4 linked regions of the Homo sapiens genome follow. The protein of the gene in region 2 purifies or fractionates together with the protein of the main gene of each other region. This does not show direct contact. Each region holds a gene or a part of one and is shown on either strand. Other genes may lie near its edges.

Region 1 (7,187 bases), on a different chromosome or scaffold from region 2:
CCAAGTTGGGGGTCTCGAAATCCTGACCTCAAGTGATCTGCCCACCTCAGCCTCCCAAAGTGCTGGGATTACAGGCATGAACCACCGTGCCCAGCCACCTTTTGCCTTTTAACTAGAGATTTCTGTCCATTTACAACATTTGTTGAAATGACTGGCAAGTTCTATGTACTCTCCTCATCTTAATAGAGACAGAAACACCATCTCTACTAAAATTACAAAAAAAAAGTTAGCTGGGCGTGGTGGCAGGCGCCTGTAGTCCCAGCTACTCGGGAGGCTGAGGCAGGAGAATGGCGTGAACCCGGGAGGCAGAGCTTGCAGTGAGCCAAGATCGCGCCACTGCACTCCAGCCTGGGTGACAGAGCAAGACTCCGTTTTAAAAAAAAAGTTGCAGTTTGGCCAGGTGCAGTGGCTCATGCCTGTAATTCCAGCACTTTGGGAGGCTGAGGTGGGAGGATCACTTGAAGCTAGAAGTTCCAGGCTGCAGTGACTGTGATCCCACCCACTGCACTCCAGCCTGGGCAACGAGAGACCATCAAAAAAATATATATATCTCTACAGCAAAATCATGCCTAAACAAAATGGAAAAGTACATTTGGAAAACATTTACCACATAAGTTTATTATCCCTAATTTAAAAAAGAAAATTGTGTAGGAATGAGAAAAAGACAAATACCCAATGAGAAAAATATCAAACCAGCTAATTAGAAAAAGGCCTGTAAGCCAGGCACAGTGGCTCACGCCTGTAAATCCCAGCACTTTGGGAGGCCGAAGTAGGATCGCTTGAGCCCAGGAGTTCATGATCAGCCTGGGCAACATAGTGAGATCTCATCTCTACAAATAATAAAAGAAATTAGGCGGGTGTGGTGACGCACACCTGTGGTCCTACTTACTTGGGAGGCCAAGGTCGGAGGATCACTTGAGTCTGGGAGGTCGAGGCTGCAATGAGACATGATCATGCCACTGCCCTCCAGCCTGGGCAACAGTGAGGCCCTGTCTCAAAAGAAAAAAAAAGGGCTGGGCCCAGTGGCTCATGCCTGTAATCCTAGCACTTTGGGAGGCCAAAGTGGGTGGATCACCTGAGGTTAGGAGTTCAAGACCAGCCTGGCCAACATGGCAAAACCCCGGCTCTACCAAAAATACAAAAAATTAGCCAGGCAGTCCCAGCTACTCAGGAGGCTGAGGTGGGAGGATCACTTAAGCCCAGGAGGCAGAGGTTGCAGTGAGCCGACATTGTGCCACTGCAGTCATCTAGGTGACTGAGCGAGACCCTGTCTCAAGAGAAAGAAGGAAAAAGGCCTGGGCTGGGCACGGTGGCTCATGCCTGGAATCCCAGTACTTTGGGAGGCTGAAGTGGGTGGATCACTTGAGGCCGGGAGTTTGAGACCAGCTTGGTCAACATGGCAAAACCCCATTTCTACTAAAAATACAAAAATTAGCCGGGCATGGTGGAACATGCCGGTAATCCCAGCTACTCGGGAGCCTGAGGCACGAGAATTGCTTGAACCTCGGAGCCTGAGGTTGCTGTGAGCTGAGATTGCACCATTGCACTCCAGCCTGGACAAGAGAGAGAAACTGTCTCAAAAAAAAAAAAAAAAGAAAGAGCCCATAAATAGAAAGAAACCTCCCTGATAACGGGACAATTGAAATAAGAACAAGTAGGCAGCAGGGGTCACTAGACAGTTTGGCCAAAACAAGAAACCCAGGGGAATCATCCTCATGTATAAATGGTGACCCCAGAAGAGGTCCATCCTTACCCTGGCAACGGAGAAAAGGCCATAACTTGAGTGCCAGCTGATGGGGAACTGGGCAGGGCTGGCTTTGCACTGCTGTGTCAACTCGCCTAGGCTGGGGCCTTTCTCCCAGGACTCCCATCCCTGTTAAGTTTCCGCTGCAGAGGTGTGGAGGGTGGGTAGGTGGAAGTGGGAGGTGGCTGGCTGAGCTTAGCGATCTTGGCATTGCTAGCAGGCATTGGACAGGAGGTGGCAGGCACAGGCATGGCTCCTCTGCTCCACCTGCCCTTCCTGATCACCTACCCTGTGACCGTAAGACCCTGTGAAGGGCCAGGCATATGGTGGCTCACACCTGTAATCCAGCACTTCGGGAGACCGAGGCGGGTGGATCATCTGAGGTCAGGAGTTCGAGACCAGCCTGGCCAACCTGGTGAAACCCCGTCTCTACTAAAAATACAAAAATTAGCCGGGCGTGGTGGCGTGTGCCTGTAATCCCAGCTACTAGAGAGGCTGAGGCACAAGAATCGCTTGAATCTAGGAGGCGGGGGTTGCAGTGAGCCAAGATCGCCCCACTGCACTCCAGCGTGGGTGACAGAGCAAGACTCCATCTCAAAAAATAATAAAACTGTATCTGCAAAGATCCTTTTTCAAAATAACATCACATTCACAGGTGTCAGGGGTCAGGTGTTGAATGTGTTTTGGGGGCTGGCTGCCATTCAACCCAGTACAGATGACATTGTATCTAATAGTAAACCTAAGTGCTTGTATTTCTGCAGAGAGGGGTCAGGGTGCATTAGTCAGAAGTGGATATTCTGTAATCTCTGGGTTTCAGATTCCTCTGTAAATCCTTCCTGCAGAGTAAGACTTTCTGGAATAAGCATCCATCTCCTCTAGGGACAGCAGGATAGCTTTTGTTTGATGGCTTTGGAGCAGAGACAGGTATTCAATCTCCCCCTGCCACCAACTGGTTTGTGTGACAGATAGTCAGGTAGCTACTTCGCGCCTATAACTTGGGCCCCTCACAGTTGCTGAGTCGGGATGGAGGCCATAGTCAGGAGCTCCACCGGTCAGTGGTCATTAACTCTGAGAGGCACTTCCTTCCCCAAACCAGGCCCAGCGAAGCCTGCATTTCTCCCATCTGCGACATGGAGGCCAGAGTGGGCCTGACCGCAGGGTCACTGGGGATTCCATGGAAGCTGTCCCCACCCGCAGGACCAGGAGGTACATGCCAAGTCTCCCATCACAGAAAGAAGAGAGGCCACAGCCAAGTGTAGTCACAGTTTATTTCTGATGTGGCTGAATCTAGGGACAGGCGGGCTGGGCTGAGTGGGGGGCGTGTCGGCGATGGGGCTAGAACTCCACCTTGCAGGCCGGGAAGGCGTCATCCTGCATGGACACCATGCTGTTGCTGCCCAACACCGTGATGCCCAGCGCCTGGTGCCGGGCGTGCGTCTCTGCGTACCACGTATGCATGGCCACCGAGTCGAAAGTGGGGATCAGGGTCACCTGCAGGTGGAGGGGGGGTGTGTGGGGAGAGTGGACCACCAGTGAGGGGGGTGCCCCCTGCCCTTCTGGCCTGGGCCCAAGTCGCCTTCCTTTCCTGGCATTTGAGACCCCTCCTGGCTTTTCCCTGATCTTGTGTGCTCCACCTTGAGGTCTGCAATGGGTGGTCAGCCCGTCTGTGAGGTCCCTGTTCCTCCCAACCAGCACCCAAAGAGCCTTCTCAGCACACAGGAGACGGAGCTCCTCCTCTGCAAGGCCTTCCTTGGCCTGAGACCCCTCTCTACTCACTTGGATCTCCCCCTGCTCCTTGAACACACCAACCTCTTTCCTACCTCTGGGCCTTTTCCTGGGTCGTGCACCCTACAGGGACACTCCTTTGAAGCCAGCCTAGCAGCTATGAGAGGGCAGGGGCCGCGGTGTGAGGCGGTCCTCCCTCTGCCCACATGCACCTCGCCCTGCAGGGCTTGGTTTCAGTCTCTCAGCTTCATGCAGCCATGGGGGAGGGTTCTCAGCCGCACAGATACCACCCAGCCCACCTATTCCATCCCGACTAATTCTCACAGCGGAACAATGGCTAAGTGACAAGGTGTCTGGGGAAGGGATAGAACCATGAGGCTTCACGAGGCCCTGCGTCCTCCCCCAGGCTTCCAGCACAGCCAATGACAACAGTGACACGACAGAATCAGAGTCCGAAGAGACCCCTAAGGGCTGAGCCATGTGAGACTCCCACATTCGCCCCCATTCCCGTGTGGCCTGGGGAACACAGCTTAGTCTCTGAGGGTCGAGGGTGGTTTTACCCATCTGTGCTAACTACACTTACCACCAGAGGCCCTGGGGTGACACGCACCTGCAGGTCACGGTCCCAATGCTGCTTGCTGGCCAGTAGCGCGTCCAGGACGGCCCGCATGCCTTCCTCCTTGCGCTGGTCCTGGCCACTGATGACGTAGCAGAGCGCGCGCACGCGCTGGAAGAACTCCTCATCCACCAGGTGGGCGCTGCTCCCGCTGGGCAGGTAGGCCAGGTCCAGGTAGACCGGGGACTTGGGTGGGGTGGCTGACACCCCGGGCCGGCTGCTGGCTGACCCTGCGGGCGGGGGGATGGGGAGGCAGGGATGAGCTCCTGGGGCTGGGGAGGGGCCGAGGCTCCAAGTTCGACCTGCACCACTCAGAGCAGCTCCCTCCTCAGCAGGAGGCCTGAACTCAGAGTTTTCTGGGGAGGCCTGGTGCGCTCATGACTCCAGTGAATCTTATTTTAAGAAATGGGGTCTCGCTATGCTGCCCAGGCTCGTCACAAACTCCTGGGCTCAAGTGATCCTCCTGCCTCAGCCTTCCAAGTAGATGGGACTACAGGTGCATGTCACCACGCCTTGACTCCAGTGACTCTTCACTCACTCTACAAACACCACCGGCCACCCCTTTGTGCCTAGAGCCTGACTCATCCCCAGCCAGTCCCTGGACATAGACATCCCCAGGGCTGGGGGGCGAGTGGGTGGCAATCAGGGAATGCTTCCTGGAAGAGGGTTTAAGAGTTTGAGCCCTGAAAGCAGCCAGTGCCTGGACCATCTGCTGCTTCTGCAGCATTTGTCTGGTTCACTTGCTCAAGGGGCATTTAACAGAACCTCATGGGCACCAGGCCCTGAAACAGGGCTGTGACCAAGACAGACAGAATCCCTGCCCCAAGGGTGATGGGGAGCCAGGGTGGGTGGACAGAGCCTTGAGAGGCGGGCCCAAGATCACTGCGGGATGCTGGATGCGGATGAGACAGCAGCTCTGGGGGCCTTGTCCAAACCCTGACCTTAGGGCCAAAGGGGACAAGGCCACCAGCCCTGGGCAAGTGAATGATCAATGAAATGAAAGGATACGGCTGGGTCTCGGGCACAAGAAGCCTGCCAGACCCTGCATCTTACAATCACAGCTGCTGCCCAGCTCAGGGGGTAAGAGTACTACCCCGTCTGTATACCAACAAATGCATACCCTCAGCCGAAATGGACACATTCCTAGAAACACAAAAACTACCAAGACACAATCACAAAAATAGAAAATCAGCACATACCTGTAGCTAGCAAGGAGAATGAATCAGTAACTTACGACCTCCCAACAAAGAAAAGCCCTGGGGAAGCCACTAAACATTTAGAGAACTAACATCAGCCTTTCTCAAACTTTTCCGAGGAACTGAAGAGGAAGGAACACTTCCTAACTCATTTTATAAGACCAGAATTGTCTTAATACCAAAGCCAGGCACAGATATTTAATTCTACAAGAAAATGCCAGTTCAACAGACTTTATGAACAATAATGTAAAAAATCAGGCCTGGGGGTGCAGTGGCTCACGCCTGTAATCCCAGCACTTTGGGAGGCTGAGGCAGGCAGATCACTTGAGGTCAGGAGTTCAAGACCAGCCTAGCCAACATGGCGAAACCCTGTCTCTTACTAAAAATACAAAAATTAGCTGGGCGTGGTGGCAGGTGCCTGTAATCCCAGCTACTCGGGAGGCAGAGGCAGGAGAACTGCTTGAACCCAGGAAGTGGAGGTTGCAGTGAGCTGAGATTGTGCCACTGCACTCCAGCCTGGGCGACAGAGTGAGACTCCATCTCAAAAAATAATAATAAACGAATTCAGCAAAGAAGCAAGGTACAAAGTCCACAGGCAAAACACAGTTGAATTTCTATACATGAACAATGAACAATGTGAAAAGGAGATTAAACAATCATGAAATAGAAGAATCAAGATAGAGGACTCACACTTCCAGATTTCAAAACTTACTACAAAGCTACAGTAATCAAAACAGCGTGGCACTGGCATAAAGACAGACATATAGACCAATGGAATACAATAGAGGCCCGGAAATAAATCATCACATGTATGCTGAAATGATCTTCAACAAGCGTTCCAAACATTCAATGGGGAAAGGATAGTCTTTTCAACAAATGGTGCTGGGAAAGCTGGGCTTCCACATGCAAGAGAATGACACTGGATCTTTTCACCACATACAAAAATTACCTCCAAATGGACCTAAATGTGAAATGGAAAACTTAAAACTCCTGGAAGAAAACATGGGGTAGAAGCTTCTCACTGTTGGATTTGACCAGGCATGGTGACTCACATCTATAATCTTAGTACTCTGGGAGGCCGAGGCGGGCAGATCACTTGAGGTCAGGAGTTTGAAACCAGCCTGGCCAACGTGGTGAAACCCCGTGTCTACTAAAAACACAAAAAAAATTAGCCAGGTGTGGTGGTGGGTGCCTGTAATCGCAGCTACTCAGGAAGGCTGAGGCAGGAGAATCGCTTGAACCCGGGAGGCGGAGGTTGCAGTGAGCCAAGATAGTGCTCCCATGCTGCAGCCTGGGCAACAGAGCCAGACTCATCTGAAAAAAAAAAAAAAGAAAAAGAAAAAAGAAAAAAAATCGATGTGGCAATCATTTATTGGGTCTGACATCAAAAGTGCAGACAACAAAAGAAAAAAATAGACAAAATGGACTTCATGAGAATTTAAAACTTTTGTGCATCAAAGGGCACTATCAAAAGAATAAAAAGGCAGCTCACAGAATGGGAGGAAATATTTGCAAGCCATTTATCTGCTAAAGGATTAATGTCCAGAATGATTTAAAAAACTCCTAAAACTCAGCAACGGAAAACAACTCAATTTAAAAATGGGCAAAGGGGGCTAGGTATGGTGGCTCATGCCTGTAATCCCAACAGTTTGGGAGGCCAAGGCGAGAGAATCGCTTGAGGCTGGGAGTTCAAGATCAGCCTGGGCAACATAGTGAGACTCCATCTCTACAAAACATTAAACAATTGGCCAGGCACGATGGCATGCACCTGTGTAGTCCCAGCTACTTGGGAGGCTGAGCTGGGAGGATCACTTGAGCCCAGGAAGTTGAGGCTATAATGAGCTGTGTTTGCACTACACTCCAGCATGGGTAACAGACCGAGACCCTGTCTCTAAAAAGTAAAACA
Region 2 (7,920 bases):
GATTCCCTTGCCTCAGCTTCCCGAGTAGCTGAGATTACAGGCATGCACCACCACATCTGGCTCATTTTTGTATTTTTAGTAGAGATGGGATTTAACCATGTTGGCCAGGCTGGTCTCGAACTCCTGGCCTCAGGTAATCTGCCCGCCTTGGCCTCCCAAAGTGCAGGGATTACAGATGTGAGCCACCGCCCCCGGCACATTTATTGTTTCTATGTTGTATGCAATCATTTATGTATCATCTAGCATATATATTATACTCAGGGTAGTATTATTTAGCATTTAGAATTAGTCTAACATTAATATGTATTTTGAAATATCGTGTTGGAAATCAGGACAGGAAGACATAGTTCGTGGTTGAAGAGCTTCATATGTGTATTTGAAGCTTTATTGCCTGCATATTTTTCCCTTCTAACATAACACATGTAAGGTGCTGAGTTGTAGAAGTTATTTGCCAGGCAGAGAAAGTGTTCTAAACTACGAATTTTAGTGAGCATTGTGGTTTATTTAAAGAAGTGATATGAATGTTTTAAATTCCTGGTAAGATTGGTGAATTAGGGAAGTAAAACATCATAAATATAAAGCAAAACACTCTTAATGTAGAATGTTCCTTTTATCTAACGTTAGATAAGCCTTTTTCTTCATTTTCATGCTGATGATTATAAGAATAAGATAAGCACTTCTGACATACATCATAGTAGTGAAATTTATCCTTTCTCTAGAGAGATGGAAAGAGAGGTATTGCTAGAAGGATCTATTAGAGATACAGTGATTTTTTTTTTTTTTGGATGCTGTACCACCTGGTGGAAAAGTGAGAAAAATGAGGTTTCTAGATTTCTTGAAAATATCCGGAGAAAACAAGATGTTTGTGGTAAATGCAGAATGGGGAGAAAGGGGTGAGGGAGCGGGTGGACTGGAAATTTCTTTCTTCTCTTGCCAGGCAAGGGAACATAGTGCAACTTCTTTCTATCCCCAACAGTAACAAAAACCTTATAAAGAAAATGTTTTCATTTTTTTTCTTACTTTAAACCCCATTCTTAACAACAAGAACAACAACAAAAATGGAAAAGGGTTAAAAAACCTGTCTAGGCCACGTGTGGTAGCTCATGCCTGTAATTCCAGCACTTTGGGAGGCTGAGATGGGAGGATTGCTTGAGCCCAGGAGTTTGAGACCAGCCTGGACAACATGGTGAAACCCTGTCTCTACAAAAAAAATGCAAAAATTAGTCAGGCATGGTGGTGCTCGCCTGTAGTCCCAGCTACTCGGGAGACTGAGGTGGGAGCATTGCTTAAGGCCGGGAGGCAGAGGTTGCAGTGAGCTGTGATCGCACCACTGCACTCCAGCCTGGGCAACAGAGCGAGACCCTGTCTCAAAAACAAAACTGTCTAAAAGATATAAAGGGAACGAACATATGACGTTTTGTGGCAGTTTGAATGTCATGTTTATTGTATCCGCAGGGTCTCGATCAGTACCTGATATACAGTAGTTGCTCAGTGAATGCAAGCTGAATGAATGAATGTTTTCCTGATTTGATAGTAACTGGGTCTTTACCATTTCTTTTTTTTTTTTTTTTTGAGATGGAGTTTCACTCTTGTTGCCCAGGCTGGAGTGCAATGGCGTGATCTCGGCTCACTGCAACCTCCGTCTCCCGCGTGCAAACGATTCTCCTGCCTCAGCCTCCCGAGTAGCTGGGATCACAGGCACCTGCCACCATATCCAGCTAAATTTTGTAGTAGAGACGGGGTCTCACCATGTTGGCCAGGCTGGTCTTGAATTCCTGACCTCAGGTGATCTGCCCGCCTCGGCCTCCCAAAGTGCTGGGATTACAGGCGTGAGCCACCGCACCTGGCCCCTGATCTTTACCATTTTCAAATGTACTGTATCTTATGGTGCTCCCAAAAACTGTATGAAACATTAACTTAATGAAAGGGGGAGGTATTATTTAGTGATTGTATAAGGCCCACACCTAGATAGCAAGAAGGCTGGAACTCAGGTTTTCAGACTCAAATTACACTCTCTATTTTGTTACTTTTTAGCTATAAAAATAATTTTATGGCTCCATATTCCCTTTGCAAATAAGGACACCTAAAATTTAAGAGTTTCTTAAAATTTCTTTTCTTTTCTTTTTTTTTTTTTTTTGAGATAGATTCTTACTGTGTCACCCAGACTGGAGTGCAGTGGCAGGATCTTGGCTCACTGCAACCTCCATCTCCCAGGATCAATTGATTCTCATACCTCAGCCTCCTGAGTAGTTGGGATTACAGGCACCCGCTGCCAGGCCTGGCTTTTTTTTTTGTATTTTAGTCTAGATGGGGTTTTGCCATGTTGGCCAGGCTGGTCTTGAACTTCTGACCTTAAGTGATCTGCCCTCCTTGGCCTCCCAAAGTGCTGGGATTATAGGCATGAGCCACCGCGCCTGGCTGTTTCTTAAAATTTCAACTCCCTGACCTGCATATAGTCATGACAGTGTTTATAATTTGTATTTGTGGATTCACGTATTTGTGGATTCGCTGTGTTTCAAAGGATCCACCTAATCATTGTTTTCAGCAAAACCAAAAATGTGGACAGTTGTGTAATTTATTATTTGCCTTCTTGATTTCCCACCAAAATCAAACTACCTGTAAATACAGGACACATTCAGATTTCCAAAGAATAGAAATGGTCTAAAGTTATAATCTGTCAGAGTGTGTCTTACCTCTTAGCTAAGCTACCTCTCCTCCTGAGCCTTTGGTAGTTCATGGGAATAAGGAAATGAGACAGTATTTTTGCTTTAGAAGTAGGGTAGTCAAGAAGTCTTGAGAAACGTGAAATTGTCTTCTGAACAACCCACACTTTAAAAAAAATTGCGCTGAAGAATTTTACTTCAGTAAGTAAGTCTATTAGACTCCCCATAGCAGGCCTCAACTTCACCCTTTCGGTTTTCTCTTTCTTATTCAAATATTTTTGTGCCTCAATTATTTGGTTGTGTCTTATTGCTAGAATCAACAGTAATGAGCTGCACTCTTTTATTAGTGTTTCCATTAGAAGTTTAGAGCTAGATCACTGGGGTAAAAGAATAGTGGTTTATGACATAATAGGTATTTTGACTCTACTAGCCTTTTTCTTTTTTTTTTTTTGAGACGGAGTTTCGCTTTTGTCACCCAGGCTGGAGTGCAGTGGTGTGATCTCGGCTCTGCAACATCTGCCTCCTGGGTTCAAATGATTCTCCTGCCTCAGCCTCCCGAGTAGCTGGGATTACAGGCTCCCGCCACAGTGCCTGGCTAATTTTTTGTATTTTTAGTAGAGACGGGCTTTCACCATGTTGGGCAAACTGGTCTCAAACTCCTGACCTCAGGTGATCCACCCACCTCGGCCTCCCACAGTGCTAGGATTACAGGTGTGAGCCACCACTCCTGGCCTATACTAGCTTTTTAAATGCTGATTTTTAATTCCCGTATTATGGGGCATAAACATTTTCACCAGACATTTTGCCTAGGGCAAGGTGATTTACACATCTTTTCTGCATGTCTGATATGTTCTGTTCTTACACGATATTAATCCATTGGAATTTTGTGTTTGTGTGAGCAAGATTCACAAAGGCATATTCCTTTAAATGAATTTCAGAAGAAAAAGTTTCCAGTCCTATAAAGCCTCATATTTGAGTAGTATACTCCTTATCCCATTTCTTCTTCTGGCCAACTCACAAGATTTGGAATTATTTGGAAAGCAGTGACACAAAACATTTTTGAAAAGAAAGGCTAAAAATATCCAATAATGTGGTTATTCTTTTTAGACTTCCTTTGGCAGTCAGTGCATGTCATACGGTTAACATTCTTTTTCTGGGAGAAAAAAAAACTGAGTCTGACCAAATACTTTCTAGTGTGGCCTGATCACCAACTCTTAGCCCTGGGCATTAGCCCTCGCATTTTCCACCCCCAAGTCTCCAAGCATAAGTAGCTGTCTTTCAATAAAGGCCCCAGTTTGAAACGTGTATTTCACTCCTAATTTGGCCAAAGGCCATTGGCTAGCAGTCCCTCTTCAGAGGGGATGGTGAAAAGACAGTAGGATATATGATAAATGCATGCAAAGGAGCTTCTCTTCTATATGACAAGTCTTGGCTAACTTAGCCTCTTTGCATCTTCCTCTGTTTGAAGAGCTACACACATTTGCCTTGTAGGAAGTTTTTATTCTCATGGCAAGCAGGCATTACCTCTATTACAAGGCCCCGCTTATTGTTCACCCTGTGATGTAAGAGCTTTTAGGACTCCAACAATATTAGCCTTCTCTTTAATTCCTTTCAGGCCCCATCGCCATCTCAGAACCATGGCCTGGAGTTGCCGCCCTCCATTCTCCTTAACATGTCGACTCAGAAAAGTCTTAAAGCCCGCTGTTCTTTCCCTTCATAGCAAAAATTATAATTTATCATTATATTTTGTTTAATGAGGACAGAGACTAGCATTTTTTACCTACTACATAATATAAATGCTTGGCACTTAAGGTGCTTGAACAAATGAAAGCCTGCTCATTTTGGATGGATGTCCCAGTATTTGGTACTGTTAGTTTTCCTTTATACACAAATGTACACAATGTCTCCCCCTTTCCAAACTAGACCATAAGCCTTCACAGTATCTTACAGGTAGTAGTGATTTAAAATGGGATGATATTGGTAATATCTGTGATTACTGGTTAAGCATAACTCACTTTATATACTTTCCCCTTGTTTTAAGAAAACTCATCATTTATTCATTAATATATTTAGTTGACAATTTATTGTGTGCCTCCTATGTGCCAGATACTGTTCTAACCTCTGGGGTTAGGGTGGTGAACAATACACAGTCCCTGGCCTCTTTTGGCAATGTTTTTAAAAAGCTTACCCAATAGGCAAATGAAAATATCTCTCTAATTTTTCCCTAAAGAGCTTGCTCCTTTAGTGTATTTGAGGAAACTTTGAAATGTAGTTTTTCAGGAACACACCTATTTTGTAGTGTGGTAAAGCTATACATTGATTGATTGATTGGTTGAGACGGAGTCTTGCTCTGTCACCCAGGCTGGAGTACAATGATGCGATCTCCACTCACCGCAACCTCTGCCTCCTGGGTTCAAGCAATTCCCCTGCCTCAGCCTCCCCAGTAGCTGGGATTACAGGTGCGTGCCACCACATGGGGCTAATTTTTTATATTTTTAGTAGGGATGGGGTTTCACCATATTGGCCAGGCTGGTCTTGAACTCCTGACCTTGTGATCTGCCCGCCTCGGCCTCCCAAAGTGCTGGGATTACAGGAATGAGCTACCGTGCCCGGCCCTATACATCTGTTTAGATGGGAATGTTGACGTGGAAGTGTATCACTTCCTGTTTTACGTCCCTGTGTAAAACAATCACATTTCCTTATTGATGACTGTCTTCCAACAGAAACGTAATCATCTTCAAGGTTAGAAAATGTTTTTTAAATAACTTCAACCAGCGTTAACCAAACTGGTTAATTCACCAAAATGTTAACCAAAATTAACCAAATCAAATTTGGTTTATTTTCCAGGTCTCTTTTTTCTTTTCTTTTTTCATTTTTAAAGAGATGGGATCTTGCTATGTTGCCCAAGCTAAAATGCAATTGTTATTCACAGGCATGATAATAGTGCCCTATAGCCTCGAACTCCTGGGCCCACATGATCCTCCTGCCTTAGCCTCCTGAGTATTCCAGGTTTTTCTTAATAGTTTAAACAGGTAGTTCTGGTTTGGCTATCAGTAGTGTTGTCAAATAGCTTTTGTTTGCTTAATTTTATTTTTATTTTTTTTGAGACAAGTCTTGATCTGTTGCCCAGGCTGGAGTGCAGTGGCGTGATCTCGGCTCACTGCAACCTCCACCTCCTGGGTTCAAGCAATTCTCCTGCCTCAGCCTCCCAAGTAGCTGGGATTACAGGGGCATGCCACCATCCCCGGCTAATTTTTGTATTTTTAAAGTAGAGACGGGGTTATACCATGTTGGCCAGACTGGTCTCAAACTCCTGACCTCATGATCTGCCCTCCTTGGCCTCCCAAAGTGCTGGGATTACAGGCGTGAGCCACCACGCCCGGCCTTTTGTTTTTGTTTTTGTTTTTTTTAAATGGAGAGGGCCAGATAATGCTCTAGGAAGGATGTCAGAACCCATAAAAAATGATGAGTATTTGAAATATATGTAAAAACTTAAGTAACAAATCAGAAAATATATTCTGAGATAGAAGTGACCATTCTAAAACTGTGCTGTACAATACAGTAGTCACTAGCTACATGTAGTTTTTAAGCAATCGAAACGTGGCTAGTCTGATTGAGATTGCTGTGAAAAATACACACTGGATTTTGAAGATTAGAAATGTACCCTAAAACTTAAAGTATAATAATAAAAAAAAAGAAAGAATGTAAAATATGATAATTAAAAAATTGCAATTACATGTTGAAATGATAATATTCGATAATATTTGAGTTAAGTAAATTTAATGTTACTTATTTTTTAGCATGGCTATGGAAAACTTAAAATTATGCATGTGGCTCGCATGATATTTTTGTTGAACAATGCTGTTTGCTGAAGCAGGGCTGGCAGCCCTTGCCAGAGGTTTGAATCTCCATTGTCTTGGTGGCTGCAGATGGATGGATGTGGGGGTACCAGCCTGGTGTGTTGGGAAGATTTTTCTTTGTGAAGGGGAACTTGCCCTTTACTGTTGGGGATAGTTTCTTCTCAGCCTATCCAGGGACACACATACCAGCATTTTGGGGTTGTGAAACTTTTGTGTGGGGAACTTCCCTTTTTTTTTTCCACATGAGCCAATAAGATAAAACTGACCTAATGGCATTCTCGGTGCAACTCTGCCTTCAGTTTAAGGACAGAAGAGGGCTCATGTTTCATAGAGTATTAAAGGAGCAAGCTTAATATTTTGCATTTTGTGGACTGTAATTGCTAACTGCTGCTACATGATTCAGTCAGCTAAGAATAATTTACTAATTATATATTGCCTCACTTGGTTCTTTTTCCAGATGCTAAACAAGGTGAGATAATTAGAGGAGGAAAAAGGGTGAGTTTGGGAATTGGAGACCAGAAGGATGGATTTAGAAGATCTTGGAGTTAACGGACTTAGAATATAGTCAGCAAAGAGTTCACTTAAAATTAGTGCAGGTTGCCAGGCGTGGTGGCTCACGCCTGTAATCCCAGCACATTGGGAGGCCAAGGCGGGCGGATCACGAGGTCGGGAGTTCAAGACTAACCTGGCCAATATAGTGAAACCCCGTCTCTACTAAAAATACAAAAATTAGGCAGGCATGGTGGTGCATGCCTGTACTCCCAGCTACTCGGTAGGCTGAGACAGGAGAATCGCTTGAACCTGGGAGGTGGAGGTTGTGGTGAGCCGAGATTGCGCCACTGCACTCCAGCTTGGGCAACAGAGTGAGACTTTATATCAAAAAAAAAAAAAAAAGAAATTAGTGCAGGTTGACTGTGTGTGTGTGTGTGTGTGTGTAGTTTTCTGAATTCATTTTTCAAGTATTGAATATTCACAATGATGCTAGACTAAGTGCTAGAGATTTGGTGGTGAACGAAACAGATTGAAACCTGCCTTCATGGGGGGCGTATATAGGTTCGTCTGACTAGTCTAGATAAGTGAATTTGTGTAGTAATTGTTTTTTTGTAACTGGCTTAGTTTACTTAGCTTGATGTCATCAAGATTTATTCATGTTGGAGTATGTGTCAGAATTTCCTTCCTTTTAAAGGCTGAATAATATATCCATTGTATGTATATATCACTTTTTGTTTATCCATTGATTCTTCCATAGACATTAGGATTGCTTCCACCTTTTGGCTCATGTGAATAATGATGCTGTGAACAGGGGTGTACAAATATCTCTTAAAGACCCCTCTTAAAACTTTTTGCGATATATACCCATAAGTAACAGTTGCTATAGAATCATATGGTAATTCTGT
Region 3 (7,920 bases), about 38 Mb from region 2:
AATGCAAAAAACTGTACATGAATGTTCACAGCAATATTATTCAACTGATAAATGAGTAAATATGATGTGTTCATACAGTGGAATATCTGGCAAAAAAAAAAAAGTAGGGGGGAATGATGCCCTGAAACAGGCTACAACATGGATGAAAACTGAAAAAATTATGCTCAGTGAAAGAAGTCAGTCACAAAGACAATGTATCACGCCATTTATATAGTGTCCAAAAGAGGCAAATCCACAGAGGCTGAAAGTAGATTAGTGGATGTCTAGGACTGAGGGATTAGGAAAAGGAAGGAGGAATGGGAAGTGACTGTTAATGAACATACGGTTTCTTTTTGCGCGGGAAAAATGTTCTAAAATCAATTTTGTTGATGGTTACACAACTCTGAATATACTGAAAACCCTAAAAGTGTACACTTTAAATAGGTGAATAGTATGGTATGTGAATTACATATCTCAATAAAGGTGTTATATTTAAGAAAAGAGCTAGAGTGGCTATATAATATCAGACAAGGTCAGGCGCAGTGGCCCACGCCCATATAATCCCAGCACTTTGGGAGGCCAAGGCTGGCAGATCATGAAGCCAGGGGTTCCAGAACAGCCTGGGAAACATGGCCAAACCCCACCTCTACTAAAAATACAAAAAATTAACCGGGCGTGGTGGTACACACCTGCAGTCGCAGCTAGCTGGGAGGTGGAGGTAGGAGGATCACCTAAGCCCAGGAGGTTGAGGCTGCAGTGAGCCACAATCACGCCACTAAACTTTAGCCTGGGCAACAAAGTGAGACTTGCCTCAAAAAATAAATAAATATCAGACAAAGTAAACTTCAGAGAAAAGAAAATTACCAGGGACAGAGGAACATTACATGATGATAAAATGCCCAATCACCAAGAAGACATAAGCATCCTAAATGTATATACAACTATAATTAAAGAGCTTCAAAATACAAATGCACTAACTCAAACAACTGAAGGGATATATAGGCATATCCACCCTTACTGCTGAAAAATTAAACATTCCTTTCTCAGTAACTGGCAGACTTTGTACACAAAAATCAGCAATATAGGCAAAATGAACAGCATCCACTAACTGGCTTGAATTGATATTTATGAAATGCTACAACCAACAACAGCAGAGTACACATTCTTTTTAAGTGCTCAAGATATTCATGAGGATAGATCACATCCTGGATCACAAAACAAACCTTAACAAATTTAAGAGAACTGTAATCATACAAATTATGCTTTTTTTTTTTTTTTTTTGAGACGGAGTTTCACTCTTGTTGCCCAGGCTGGAGTGCGATGGCACATTCTCGGCTCACTGCAACCTCTGCCTCCTGGGTTCAAGCGGTTCTCCTGCCTCAGCCTCCCGAGTGGCTGGGATTACAGGCTCATGCCACCATGTCCGGCTAATTTTTGTATTTTTAGTAGAGATGCGGTTTCACCACGTTGGCCAGGCTGGTCCTGAACGCCTGACCTCAGGTGATCTGCCCGCCTAGGCCTCCCAAAGTGCTGGTATTACAGGCGTGAGCCACCACGCCTAGCCAGTACAAATTATGCTCTCTGATTATAATGAAATTAAACTAAAGTAAGTAATTAAGAGATAACAAGAAAAATCTCCAAACATCTGGAAGTTAAACAATGTACTTCTATATAATAAGTCAAAAAGGAAGTTTCTGGAAATTAGAAGATACTTTGATCTAAATAAACATGAAAATACAAAATATCAAAAATTTTGGCATGTATGTAAAACTCTACTTTGAAGCAAATTTATAGCATTAAATGTTTATATTAGAAAATTAGAAAGATCTCAAATCAATTATGTAAGCCTCAACCTTTAGGAACCTGGAGAAGAAGAGCAAAATAAACCTAAAGTAAATAGAAAGAAATAATAAAGAGTAGAAATCAACGAAATTGAGAACAAGAAAGCAACAGAGAAAACCTAATGAAATAAAAAGCCAGTCCTTGGAAAAAAATAAAAATTGAAAAACCTCCTGAAAAATTAACCAAGAAAAAAAGTCAGCAGACATAAATTACTAATGGAAAGAAGGGATATCAGGAAAGATGAGACATCACTACAGACCTCTAATTCCTTAAAAGGATAAGTGAACACAATAATAAATTCCATACACATGAATTGGATAATTTAAATGAAATGGACTAATTCCTCAAAAAACACAAACTACATAAAGTCACACAAGATGAAACAGACAACTATGAATAATCCTATTATAATTATTTTAAGAAACTGAATTTGTAATTAGAAATCTTCTGCAAAAAATCTCCAGACCTGGATGGCTTCAAGGACAAATTCTATCACACATTTAAAGAAGAAATAACACCAATTATTATACAATCTCTTAAAAAAATAATAGAAAAGGAAATACTTGTAATTTTAATCTCATAAACTGATGTCAGTATTACTGATACCAAAACCAAAGAGAATACAAGAAAACCACAGACTAATATCCTTCATTAACATAAATAAAAAATCCTTAAGGAAATATTAGTAACTCAAATTCAGCAACTCATAATGAGAGTAATATACCCTGACCAATGGGAGTTTATCCCAGATTCAAGGCTGTCTCCAATGTAATCCACTGAAGAAGAAAATCACTTATGCATACCAACTGGCATATTATTAAAAAATTCCGCATACTTTCATAATAAAAATTTTCTGCAAGCTAGAAGAGGATTTTTTTAAACTGAGAAAGGGCATTTTCAGAAAACTTACAGCAAACGTCATACTTCATAATGAATGACTGACTGCTTTCCCAATAAAATTAGGAACAAGGGAAGGATGTCTGCAGTCACCAGTCCTGTTCAATACATTGGTGTAATAAGGCTAGGAAGGGGGGAAAAACCATACAGGCTGGAAAAGAAGAAATAAAACGGCCCCTTTTCACAACCAACATTGTTGTCTATGTAGAAAACCCCAAAGAATCCAAAAAAGAACTCCTAAAACTACTACATGATTTTAGCAATGTCACAGGATACAAGCATAAGAATCAACTGTTTTTCTATATACTGGCAACAAACAAATGGAAACCAAAACTTTTTTTTTTAAAACACACATTTACAATAGCAAAACAAAACAAAACAACAACAACAAAAAAACACAAAAAACAAACCCTGAGATTCCTGGGCACAAATTAAAACATATGCAAAATTTGTTTGCTGATAACTACAAAATGCTAATGAAAGAAACTAAAGAGGATCTAAAAGAATGGAGAAACATACTGTGTTCATGGACTGGAAGACTCAACATAGTAGGGAAGTTTTCTTTTTCTTTTTTTTGAGACAGAGTCTTAGTCTGTCGCCCAGGCTGCTGGAGTGCAGCGGTACGATCTTGGCTCACTGGAACCTCCGCCTCCTGGGTTCAAGCGATTCTCTTGCCTCAGCCTCCAGAGTAGCTGAGATTACAAGCGTGCGCCACCACGCCCAGCTAATTTTTGTATTTTTAGTAGAGATGGGGTTTCGTCATGTTGGCCAGGATGGACTCGAACTCCTGACCTCAAGTGATCCTCCTGCCTTGACTTCCCAAAGTGCTGGGATTACAGGTGTGAGCCACTGCACCCAGCCGAAATGTCAAGTTTTCTGTAACTGTTGTACAAACAGTGCAATTTCCAGTCAAAGTCCCAGCAAGATTTTTTTAGAGAAATTGACAAGCTAATTCTAAAATTAGCTTGGAAATGCAAAGAAACTAGATAACAACAAAACAACTATGAAAACAAAAAAAGTTGAAGAAACTATTTGTTTTCAGTTTTTTTCACACTACCAAAGTTTAAGACTTACTATAAAGCTACTTCAATCAAGGTGGCATAGAGCTGATAGAAACAGAAAAGGTTTAGAGACAGGGCCATACAAAAATGGCCAATGGATTTTTGAAAAAGGTGCAAAGGCAAGTCAAAGGAGAAAGGTTGGCTTTTTTCAACAAATGGTGTTGGAAGAACTGGACATCTATATGCCAAAAGTTTAATCCCAACATAATTCCTACACTTAATACAAAAATTAACTCAAAATGGACCATAAGTCTAAATATAAAATTAAAAACAATAACACTTTCAGGAAAAAAATAAGAGAAAATCTTTGTGACCTGGGGTTAGGCAAAGGTTTTTGTAAACATGATACTAAAAGCATGATTCATAAAAGAAAAATTTGATAAACTGGACCTCATCAAAATCACAAACTTTTGCTCTGGGAAAGACACTGTTTAGAGAGTTTGAAAAGACAAGCTACAGGCTGGGAGAAAATATTTCAAATCACTTATCCAACTAAGGACTTGTATCTAGAATACAAAAAAGTCTCTCAAAACAATAAGAAAATAACCCAAATAAAAATGAATAAAAGACTTTACTAGTGAACCAAAAAGATATGGACAAATAAGAAACATGAAAAGATGTTCAACATCATTAGCCATTAGAGAAATGCAATTAGAACCATCATGAAACCTGTCCTCTTAAAATGACTATCTATTTCTGCATCAATACCACATTGCCTCAAATGTAACAGCTGTAAAATAAACTCTCCCTATCTAATATGTATAAGTCACTGTTTTCTTCTTTAAAATTGCTTCACCTATTTGCCTTCTCTCTAACCTAATTCTATCCAAATGGATCTCTAGAGTACCCTAGAGGAAAATCAAACTGTTACGTAATAATTTTAATTAATTCAAACTGTTGGTAGCTTTCTGAATCTGAGCAATAACTAACTACCTTATACTGTCATTTGGGCAAGAGGACAAGTGTTATTCCCACTTTACCAATGAGAAAATAGACCCAGGAATTCCAAATCTAAAAAGCTGAGTGGCTCACGCCTGTAATCCCAGCACTTTGGGAGGCCAAGGCGGGTGGATCACGAGGTCAGGAGATCGAGACCAGCCTGACCAACATGGTGAAACCCTGTCTGTACTAAAAATGCAAAAACTAGCTGGGTGTGGTGGCGCACGCCTGTAATCCCAGCTACTCTGGAGGCTGAGGCAGGAGAACTGCTTGAGCCCGGAAGGTGGAGGATGCAGTGAGCCGAGATCGCACCATTGCACTCCAGCCTGGGCGACAGAGCAAGATTCCATCACAAACAAACAAACAAACCAACAAAGCTGAATGACAGCACCACAAAGCAAGGAAAGAGCCAAACTAGTACCAAAAATAGAATTTCTGATCCCCAGTCTAGTGTCCTATTCCTAAGCCACACTGGATTCCCAGGGTCCTGTTTGCTTTTTACCTGTATAGAAATAATCTCAATCTCATCAGGTGGAAAACGAAAAAAAGTAAGTTCTCTGACCCTACCCAACACATGGAACATCCAAGATATTTTTTAAAATTTTCAAGCCAGCCATAGAAAAGAAATGGGAATGTATATGAAGACAGATTTTAAAGAATAAAAAAATTTCAAATATTTTCCAGACATAACAGCCTAGCAACCATTTTAATTAGGTGTCACAGTTAATTACAAGATCAATGAATGTTTACTGATTGGCTTTTTAAAGTTGTAATTAATATCCACTTTATGAAAAACACTCTCTCCTCTCCAGATTGCATAATGAAATACTACTATCAAAATCAACTACATTTAAAATTTGTTAACTATAAAAACCTACCTATTCAGGGAAAGGAATTATAAGCAGCAGGTAGCTCAAAGCATAATTTTTTTTAGCATTTCAGAAACACAGTGACAACAGTTTCTAAGAATTTGCATGTTCATTTCCTGTACGTGAAACCACACACACAAAAGTTTAAAATATTTTATAATATGCATTTACTTTATCACCTTTTTTGAAGACCATTGTGCTTCCCCTCTTTTTTGGCCAGGAAGTGGAGTGGGAGGAAGAAGACTGTTTTCCAAACTCTCTAACAAGTTTCAAATTTTAAAAAACAGACTACAGTAAAAAAGGAATATTCTAAACTTTTCGGCCTATTTTTATAGTGCCTACCTTAACTGGCCATAATACACTTACTTACATTATTTTCTATAGGCGGGTCCAAATTACAGGTGAATCTCTTTTTTTTTTTAGCAAGTTAAAAAATTTTTTTTTCTTTTCTGCATTAGTCACATTCTCGCCCACTTTACCACCCAAAGACTTTTGCAGTCAGACTCCTGGCAGAAGGCTTAGAACATTCTGCTGCTGATAAAAGAGAAACCACCACCCACCCAAGACAGCAACTGCCAGCTGTTTACTTTTAGATTTTGGTTAAGAAAAATTTAAGGAAATTCAAGTCAAAATTTTCAAGCCAACCTCAGAAAATAAATAGGAATATAAATGAAATGTAAGAGAAATTAAAGACGAAAAAAATTTCAAATATTTTCTAGGTAATTAATAAAAGCCTAGCAACCATTTTAATTAGGCATCACATTAATTGTAAGATCAATGAATGTTTACTGATTGGACACTTCTGTTTCCCTTATCTGCAAATCCACTACTCCTACCACTACATCTACACAGAAATATTGTGGCTACTGATACACCACAGATCTGTCTTTAAATGTCAACAATCTAGTTTAAATTTTTTCATGTTCAGGTATGTGTCTCTAATATTAATTAGTACATAATATGAACTGACCCATATGGAAATAAAAAAACCAAAAGGTATAGTTATGGTTTTCATATAAACTTATAATCTTATGAATGCAAGAAAGAACGCATATAAATTACATATAAAAATAAGCATTTATAAAGGCACATCGCTGTATGTGAAAGCAAAGAAAATTTTCACTGTCCTTGAAAATAGTGGAATGAATACATGTTTGGAACTGTATAAAGACACTTTCTGAAGAAAATTAATTTTTAAACTTGGAAGAAAGATTTTGGAAGTAATGACACTGGAGGATTTTTTTAAAATTACACGTTCCCTTAGAATTGTGGCTGAATATAAGTTTCACATACATATGTTCAAAGAGTTGTGACAGTTCAAGAAGGAACTAACCTAATCTAAACCAGTTATTTCTAACCTACAGGCTAAGGAGTCAGTAGAAGAGTTGCCTGAATGCACATACTCCAAGCACTGTCTGTAGTCTAAAACATTTCTGCTCCATTTCTCAAATATAAATAGATACTGTAAAAATAAAATACAAAATCATTTAAAAGCATAGTAGTTTTCTGTCATTATACATAATTTCAACCAACAATTACTAAAAGTCCAATTGCATGTGTATTAGAAGTACAGGGTTTCTCATAATCAAAATAGGTCGGGACCTTTAAGCTAATGTACAGAGTTCCTTCTGGCCCAAAATTCTATGATTTTAAAGGATGAAGAACTCTTACGGTGAATTCCTTAGAACTATTCCATTTCAATAAACATACATATGTATATATAAATAATGCTTGCTATGTGCCAAGTACTGGACTTTTTCTCAGAGATGAGTAAGACATGATTCCAGACAGACCCAGGTTCAAATTGGCAGGAGAGACAGAAACAAATAATACAACCTAATAAATACTGCAGAAGAAAAGTTTCAAATGCGTTGGGAGCACAGCGGTATCAATGTCACCTGGGGGAGTCTGAGAAGACAATGATTTATGAATTGGGTTTTGACAGGTGGTAAAATAGAGGAACAGTAAACATCCTAGACATCCGCACGTACAAAAGTACAGAGCTGTCAAAGCGCATGGCATGTTTGGGGAAATAGCCAGTATAGTCTTGTATGGTAGGATATTAAAGCAGGACTAAAAGGTAAAATGGATTGGGGCAGACTGTAAAAGATCCTGAATGATGATGTGCTTAACAATTAGGATTTGATGCTGTCAGCAATACGGTTACTAAAAAGTTTAAGGAAAGGACAGAGATAAATATGTATTTCAGAATAACTCTATGGAAGGATTATAGTAGGGAAACCAGTGGAGGGCGGGGGGCAGAGGGGGCAACCGCACTAATTCTGGCGAAAAAAAAAATAATACAGTGCAGTGTTAAGTGGAAATGAAGAACC
Region 4 (7,920 bases), on a different chromosome or scaffold from region 2:
TTTGATGCACCCTGGCAAGCTTTGAAGGTGGAAGGGACCACGTGCAAGGACCACGGAGCAACCTCTAAAGGATCAGATTTGACAGTCAGCTAGGAGACAGGGACCTCCATCCTCTGACTTTAATGAGGCTGGAAGCGAATTCCTCCTCAGAGCTTTAGTTGAGTACCCACCCTGGAAGACACTTTCATTTCAGCCTTGTTGGGCCTTGAACAGACAGCCCAGTTGAGTTTCCCTGGAGTTCTAACCTACAGAACTTTGAATAGATAATTCAGTTCTGAGTGCAATCCAGATGACCAAAACATTTGAAAAGATGTCTACATTTATAGTAGTCAGGAAAATGGAAATTAAAATAACACTGAAAAATCACTACATCCACCAGGATTTTTTTCTTTTTTCTACGTATTTTTTAATGTTACAATAGTTATTGCCATGAGTATTAAGGGAAAAGTGTTTTTATACATTTACTGATGGAAATAAAAACTGTTCCGGCCACTTTGGGAAACAATCTGTCAATATTTATTTAAAAATTTAAATATACATACTCCTCAATGCAGCAATCCTACTCCAGGGAATCTATTCCGCAGACGTAAAACCATCATGGTGACAAACATATACACAGGAATGTTTATTGTAATAATAAAAAGGAAATAAGAGCTATGATAGACTTAGAGAAATTCTCATCCTACATTGTTAAATGAGAAATGTGAGATGCAGAGAACGTACATGATCCCATTTATTTAAAGCAAACTGCCCACCAAAATATCTTCTCATTAACGTTAGACTGTATATGTTTACTGATAAATTTGAGAGACCTTTAAAAATTTGTAAGGTGCTCATGATACACATTATATTAGAAAAAGCAAGTGCAGCATAATATGTAGAATAAAACCCCATATGTAATAACTGGGTATACACATTTGTATGAATAATTAGAAAGATACATATCAGGGAGGTAGGAATGAAGGGGTATGATGGGACATGCTTCGTTTTGCCATTATGAATCTTTATGCATTGTTTTTTGCATTTAAATTCATTTCTGTCACTTTCTTAACCTGAAAAACATCAAATCATCCCCCTTCCCTGCTCTATTTTTTTTCCCTCTGCACTTATCACTAATATTCCCTATATTTTCACTTGTTCCCCCACCTGGAATGTGCTGCATCAGGTGAAGTTTTTGTTTACTGCTGACTGCCAGCAACTAGAACTGTGTGGCATATAGCTGGCACTCAAATATTAAGGAAAGTAGTCTTCTGCTACTCTTGATGTTCATTTTAACCTATTTCTCCTAAAACCCTGATGTTCTAGAAGCTATCAGGAGTGTGACCGAACTACATGACCAGAAGTCTGTATTCAGAGAGTGAACAAGTCATTTGCTGGATGCTTATTTTATTAGGTGTTTTACATCCGTTATCTCAAATCAACCTAATTAGGCAGATCTATTATCCCCATTTCATAGATGAGAAGCCAATTTAGAAGAGTTGACTTGTCTAAAATCTAACAGACAATAAATGTCCTATTGTCCAGGCCAAATTCCTGCTTTCTTCTGTGTTGAACTGATCTTAAAGGAATCATATTTTTAGTAATTTTAATGACAGTTCTTACATGGTATATGTTTAATGTTGAGATTATTCGTTGAATATTTCATATGTAATTTGCTGATTCTTTTAATGATTTAAAGTCATTTGAATATTAAATATAAATAGTTGGTCTCTAACTTGTTGACTGTTTTATTCCTAAAACAATTGCACTGTTCAGCTAAAGCCCTGGGCCCTGCTGGAGTGCTGTCAGAAAACCAAAGACAGAGATGTTCCTAGGAGAGTTAATAAACATTGGTACAATTACTATAAAATCTTCAAGACAAAAACCAGCCTGAGAGCATCCTGAGGAACTTTGTCCCAGAATTTTCCTCTCCAAAGAAAGCTCCCCAGAGGGATGCCTTTCCTGACAAGATTCCACTGGGAGGTTCGTCTTTCTCCTGGACAACAGCAGTCAGTAGGGCCATCTGTAGGTTGCAAGGAAAGAGTGTGGAAGTGGACCTGTTCTGAGCCCAGGATAATCAAGGCAGGCTCAGGTTCCAGGCTAGAAAAGCTCCCTTTCAACTGATCAGAGGCCAGTGGGGAACAGGGGATGAGCAGAGGAGATATGGGGGTCCGGGGATAGATGGGAGGTCATCAACAGGGTTTAGGGACACCTTCCTGTCCCCACCATGCTCTGCTCAGTTTTCACGCAGGCAGGACTGGAACTGTGCAGTATAAAGACGTTGCTACTCAGGCATTTTGTTGCTACCTGTGAGGTAAAGTCCAAATTCCTCTCCAGTCAAGGTGCAGACCTCAATCTCAGGATAAGCTCCACAGAACCAAATGCATTTGAGCATCAACTGTCAAGAGATTTTTTTTTTTTTTTTTTGGTCTTTGATGATTTGTATAATTTAGATTTTGAAATGGGCTCTCTGATTACTCAGCCAACAAATATTTATAGGGTACCTTTTATATGGCAAGGCACCAGGCACAGTGCTAAGAGGAACATAAGAAAAACGAACATGGTCTGTGCCTTAGGGAGCTTATATAGACAAAAGCAAACAAATAATCATTAACCTTTATTTTTGTAGGTGACAAATGAGCAATGCATAATATGCAAAATCTGGGTTAAGGGAGAGAATCAAGATATTCAGAAAAAAAATCTCATTACCTGCTCCTCATGCCTCAAAAAAAATCCAGAAGATTTTGAAATGCAGGAGATAAACATCACATATTCCTTATTAATCTTTGTATTCCAAAAATAATTTCTGAAAATCACAGGAAAGAAAACTTTTGTGTATTTATTAGCAGAGGCAAGCTATACTATCAATTGGACACCTCAAGGGCACAAAATTGCCTGGAACTACAACCTTCAAGTTCAAAATTTCTACCTCCAGAAAGCAATGATGTTTCTAAAGATTCTCTTATTTTTTAATTGTGATTAGTAGATGTGTATTCCTACGTATTCTACAGCAATGAGAAATAAGGAGCACATTCTTTTTTTTTTTTTTTAATCAAATCGATTCTGACAAAAGGAGTTTATTGTCTTGCTTGTTAAAAGGCTGACCAAAAAGAAAGTAAGTCTGAATGTTTCAGAGTTGGGAGAAAGCCTGATTCCTTCTGACCCTGAGATATACAAGGAAACTGAACAAATACCAGGCAGCAAAATACTGAGACATTTACCACATAAGAAAGCATTCTTACATAGCAGTTGAGTACTGGGAAGGTTGTTGGGGAGGGTATTATTCACAAACAACTGTCAAAAGATATGAGACCACCGAGTTTTTCTTTTTCTAAAAATCACACTGAGTGATATTATTCTATCAAGAGGATATTCTGAAATACGTGGGCTATCGAAAAAGATGTAAGTACATTTTAAAAATGTTTTTAAAAGCATAGTCAAAACCATTCAAAAGAGAACTCACTCTGTAAAAACGATTCTCATATTTTTTCATGAGATTATCACTTGGCTACTTTAGGATATTTCTTACATGCCTGGTCTTCATCCTGACATATGCAGATGACACAAAATACTTGGGCTTATATTTTTACAGCTTCCTAAAATATAATGAAAACTATTTCCTCTGACACTTTGCCATGGGGCTCTAGGATACTTTTGATATATTTCCTAAAAATATTTAATTTAGATAACAAGGACCAATGACAAGCCAGAATTGGAACCATTCATTCTTTGAGGTCAGAAGTGGTATACTGCCAGCCCATTGAAGTTGAAATGGAAGACAATGTGGCTCAGGCCACAGGGTCAGTTGCTTCTCCTTTTTGGTAAGGTACTTCTTTCCCCACACTCTCACCCAAGTTATCCAGCCCCCAAAATAAACTGTTTCTGATAAAATTACTTTTGCTCTAAGTTAATTTTGTTTATGCATGAAAAATTATTGTCTTGGTCCCATTTCCAAAGGGAAGTAGTTGGATGCCAGCATACTTTAACATTTCGGCACATATACAAACCACAAGCTGTTTATTTCTACAACTCACGATTAATGTAAAACGTTGCTTTCCATGTGCTTTTTTTTCTTAAAGTTTTCAGTTTGGGCATATTTAATTGTGGATGATGGGTTTCCCTACCATTACCCTTAATTTGATGCTATTAGAATTTTTAAAAATCTTTTGTTTGAGGCAATGAATTGGGAACCTGGTACATACACTAGATTTTATGATGGCATAAGAAATTATAGCACATAAATTAATAACACTATAGTACTCCAAGTGCTGTTTAACAGATGTTTTACTGTGGGCTCTCCTTTACATCACTGGGTTAATTACCTAAAGAGGGACACAGAAAAAGTCAATGTGGAGCTGGCATCTGGACCACTCTTCACGTAAGGTGAATGGCTAAATCACCAAGGACAAGATACTTTTCTATGAAATAGGTCCTTCCTATCAGTAGGTTATTGCAGACTTTGCTCACCCAAATAATGACTTCCAATCTAACTGAAACTACCATTACCTTTAGTGAAATATCAATTAGGAATAAGGAAAGGGTTAGGTTTTGTAGGGTTTGAGTGATACTTAGAAGCGAGTCATTTTATGTTTGGTGGGTTTTGAATCATTTGATATACAAAACTTACTGAGTTAAAATTTGTGTTTCAGAAAACGGATTCCAATTTTCAGAGCCGTATGTCAGTGCTTCCTTAGAGAACTGGAGTGTTCTGGTCATCCTGAGAAGTAACAGGCGGAGGGATGCTCCATGATTATAATGTTTAGGTTAAAAGGTATGCTTGACTCCCAAGGTGTTCTGGGAATATTTTATGTGCCAGGACAATGCTGGGGCCCTGCAAAACATCAGTGATCTTGGGAAACCCAGAGGAGGTCAGAATACTACCTGGCAATCTTAGGCTGACCCCAGGAGGTTCATCAATCCGTGAATAATTTTTGGAGTTTTAATGACCTCCTGAGATAGATCTCCAAAATTACTCAAGCTAATCATGTCTCAGTTCTCATTAAAAAGATAAAAGAGGTGTTTCCAACACTACTGAAAATGTGTGTACATACCAAAGGATATAATACTCATTAGTATACCAGCATACAGAACACCAAACAATGGTGGATAGTTTCAAGGATATCAGAAGAGATGCCTTTTAAATTTCATATTGTATTGTGGATCCTGATTGGAACAAAAAGACTGTGAGTTCTGGGCAGGCCAAAGGCCTTGAAAAATAATGTTGATTTGAAGGGGCAGGGAGTGTGGAAGGCTTGTGTATGTCTGTTAAGTAGCGAAACAAAAAATAAAAACATTGTATTTATATATGTGTATAAATTTTAAAAGCCATTTAAACTGAACATTTGAAAAACATAAAACCTATTCATTAAACATATGTGTCTCTGAAAGTACCACTGACCCAATCCTAGAAGCTATTTTAATTTGGCTTTTCAGAGGCCCAAATTCTCTATAAACTTCTCCTTCCTCACAATCAGTAATTAAGACTGGTTCATTAATTTTGGACTCATGTATACTTTGTCTAATATCCTTTTATTTCTCTGCACCCCTCTACAACTCCTCCCCCAAAAGCCCCAAATCAGACTATGTTAATTTAACTGATTACTGTAAAGCCACAGCTAGATCCCAAATCTGACAAATATTCCAATTCATGAGACACCTATAGCATGTTATCTATATTTGTACACTTTATTTAAAAACAAATAATACACTTAGAGCCACCAAAGATGGATATCTTAATTAGCTTATCCATACCCTGAATTTACATAAGAAACTTCTTGCACCACAAAAATTAGCATTTGGATTAATTTACATTAATTGATGTAACTAAAATTTAAAATACCTGAAGATCAAACAATCTGGCCCAGGGCTCACCAGCTGGAGGACTGGGTGTGGAGAGAAAGGGTTATTTAGGAATCTGAATTGATGACACCCTGTGGTCAGCTCTAGTCAACTGAACTTGAGAAAACATAAAGTAACCAGCAGATTTCAATATTAAAAAGAAGTGGTTCCTCCTAAAAAAGGTATTAGATCATAGAGTTGGGATTAGGGTAGGGGATACCTATTAATCTGGGCTGGAAAAAAAGTGTGTGGAGAAGGGGAGTTGTATTGTTTTCTCACAAGAGGCAAACTTCAGCCAAACAATGAAGAGATAGTAGGGAGGGAGATGTGTGGTAGACCAAAGACTTTCTGATTGCTGATAATAACAAATTTAGCAGCTCTCTACAAGTCAATTAAAATACCATTCTCTGAGACATTTTCAGAGAGGAGCTAACTAACACCCACCCAGGGGGGAAAAATCATTCTACATTAACAAGGCACTCACTGGTTCACAGCCTGTTAAAAACCCAGGCAGACATTAGAATCTAAATTAAAATGATTTTGAAAATTTGCATCAGAGAGATGACAAGCATGTGGTCCTGGTTAAATTAAATCTAAAGCTTGGATTAGCAAAGATCCAGAAAATTCTGACCCCCTAAGCACCACTTTAGGAATACCGCCAGAATCAATGAGTGGGATCTAGGGATCTGTTTGGCCTAACATTTGTTTTTTTTAGAATTAAAAAAACAAAACAAAAACTGAAAGGATCTGTTAAATACTTTGTCAACCTGGCATCCCTGACACTGACATGAAGATCCAGTTGGATGATGGATATTGCCAATTAAAAAGTTTGTAGTGGCAAAAGTAAAAATGATTCAAATTGACGAATGACCTGTCCTTTGTTTTTAAACACAGATACGTTTTTCTGGGCCTTTCTCTAAAATGAACTTTAGGGCTTGATACATTTCACAAAAATATACATATTTTTCGTCAGCTACTACTTTGTATACAACCTGAATCCCAGTGTCCAACACTTAAAAGTACTGCAATTATATAAATTACTAAACAAGTTAACAGTAATGGAGAGGCAACTTCTGAGTAAATAAAATGAATGATTATGTACTTAATAGCCTTGTAGTCACTTTCAAAGAATAAAGTAATCTAAATAAAATTATACTTAGCACTCTTTTTCATGTAAGTTCAATAATTATTTGGCTATTGGTTGAAAACATCACACAGACAGACACCAACCAAAGATTCATTATCTCCACTCGCTAAAAACATTGATGGTTAATTTTAAGCAATTCTTTCAAAGAAAAACAAAATTAATTCTAAGCCTTTCAGTCTGATTTGTGACATCTTAATACAATATAACTTAAATGACAAAGCCTGAGAAAAGCACCAACATAGATTTTTTTTTAATTGCATCCAACCATCATTTCAGATGTCATAAAGATTTGCTTCAGTTAAAATGGCAGCAATGACAAAGAGGTAGATATGAGAGATGCTTTTTAAATATTTTAAGACTATTCTTAGGTGGAATTTTAACTAGTTCAGGTATTTAACCTAAAAATATTTACTAGTTGAATCTTTACCACATAAGAACTTCATGACATGCTGTTTTGTAAGAGGGAAATATATGAAGTATTAAAAAGTGAGCCTTTAAAAAATTACATTTACTTAGCCAACATTAATGAGATCCCATAATTTTGGTGAACAAATAATTTCTCCTTCTACCTGAACTTTACTATAATTAAAGAATAGCTATTGTTTTCTCTACTGAAATTTCTAGGAATTCACATTCAAAATTCTTGGAAAGTATATATGGTGCTCAGAAGAGCACAAAGCGCATGAAATGTCCCCTGAAGTCCTAGAAGTTGAGCAGATACATTAAAAAGACATTGATGGTCACAAATCAGGACCTTCACAGATTGGTAAACACACACACACACACACACACGCATGCATGCACACACACACACACACACACACACACACACACACACTAACTCTCTCTCTCTCTCTGTGCCCCCCCTCCCACCCCCTCCCCAAACTCAATCTTCATCCTCACTGTAAGGCTGCATTTTTTTTTTTAAAGGCACCTCTCATTTTCTAGCTATTGCC

The links.
Region 1: the proteins of RASSF3 (region 2) and MAP1S purify together in Homo sapiens (affinity purification with mass spectrometry; one large-scale study listed by BioGRID and IntAct). This does not show direct contact.
Region 3: the proteins of RASSF3 (region 2) and FGFR1OP2 purify together in Homo sapiens (affinity purification with mass spectrometry; one large-scale study listed by BioGRID and IntAct). This does not show direct contact.
Region 4: the proteins of RASSF3 (region 2) and STRN purify together in Homo sapiens (affinity purification with mass spectrometry; one large-scale study listed by BioGRID and IntAct). This does not show direct contact.

The regions. Positions count from the first base shown.
Region 1 is NC_000019.10:17,730,321-17,737,507, reverse strand, and holds the end of MAP1S (microtubule-associated protein 1S), read right to left. Parts: intron 4,316-7,187; coding exon 4,080-4,315; intron 3,242-4,079; exon of another isoform or gene 3,236-3,241; coding exon 3,080-3,235; 3' UTR 2,995-3,079; downstream 1-2,994. UniProt on the Homo sapiens protein: Microtubule-associated protein that mediates aggregation of mitochondria resulting in cell death and genomic destruction (MAGD). Plays a role in anchoring the microtubule organizing center to the centrosomes. Binds to DNA. Plays a role in apoptosis.
Region 2 is NC_000012.12:64,612,579-64,620,498, forward strand, and holds part of RASSF3 (ras association domain-containing protein 3), read left to right. Parts: intron 1-7,920.
Region 3 is NC_000012.12:26,939,202-26,947,121, reverse strand, and holds part of FGFR1OP2 (FGFR1 oncogene partner 2), read right to left. Parts: intron 1-7,920. UniProt on the Homo sapiens protein: May be involved in wound healing pathway.
Region 4 is NC_000002.12:36,838,151-36,846,070, forward strand, and holds part of STRN (striatin), read right to left. Parts: 3' UTR 1-7,920. UniProt on the Homo sapiens protein: Calmodulin-binding scaffolding protein which is the center of the striatin-interacting phosphatase and kinase (STRIPAK) complexes.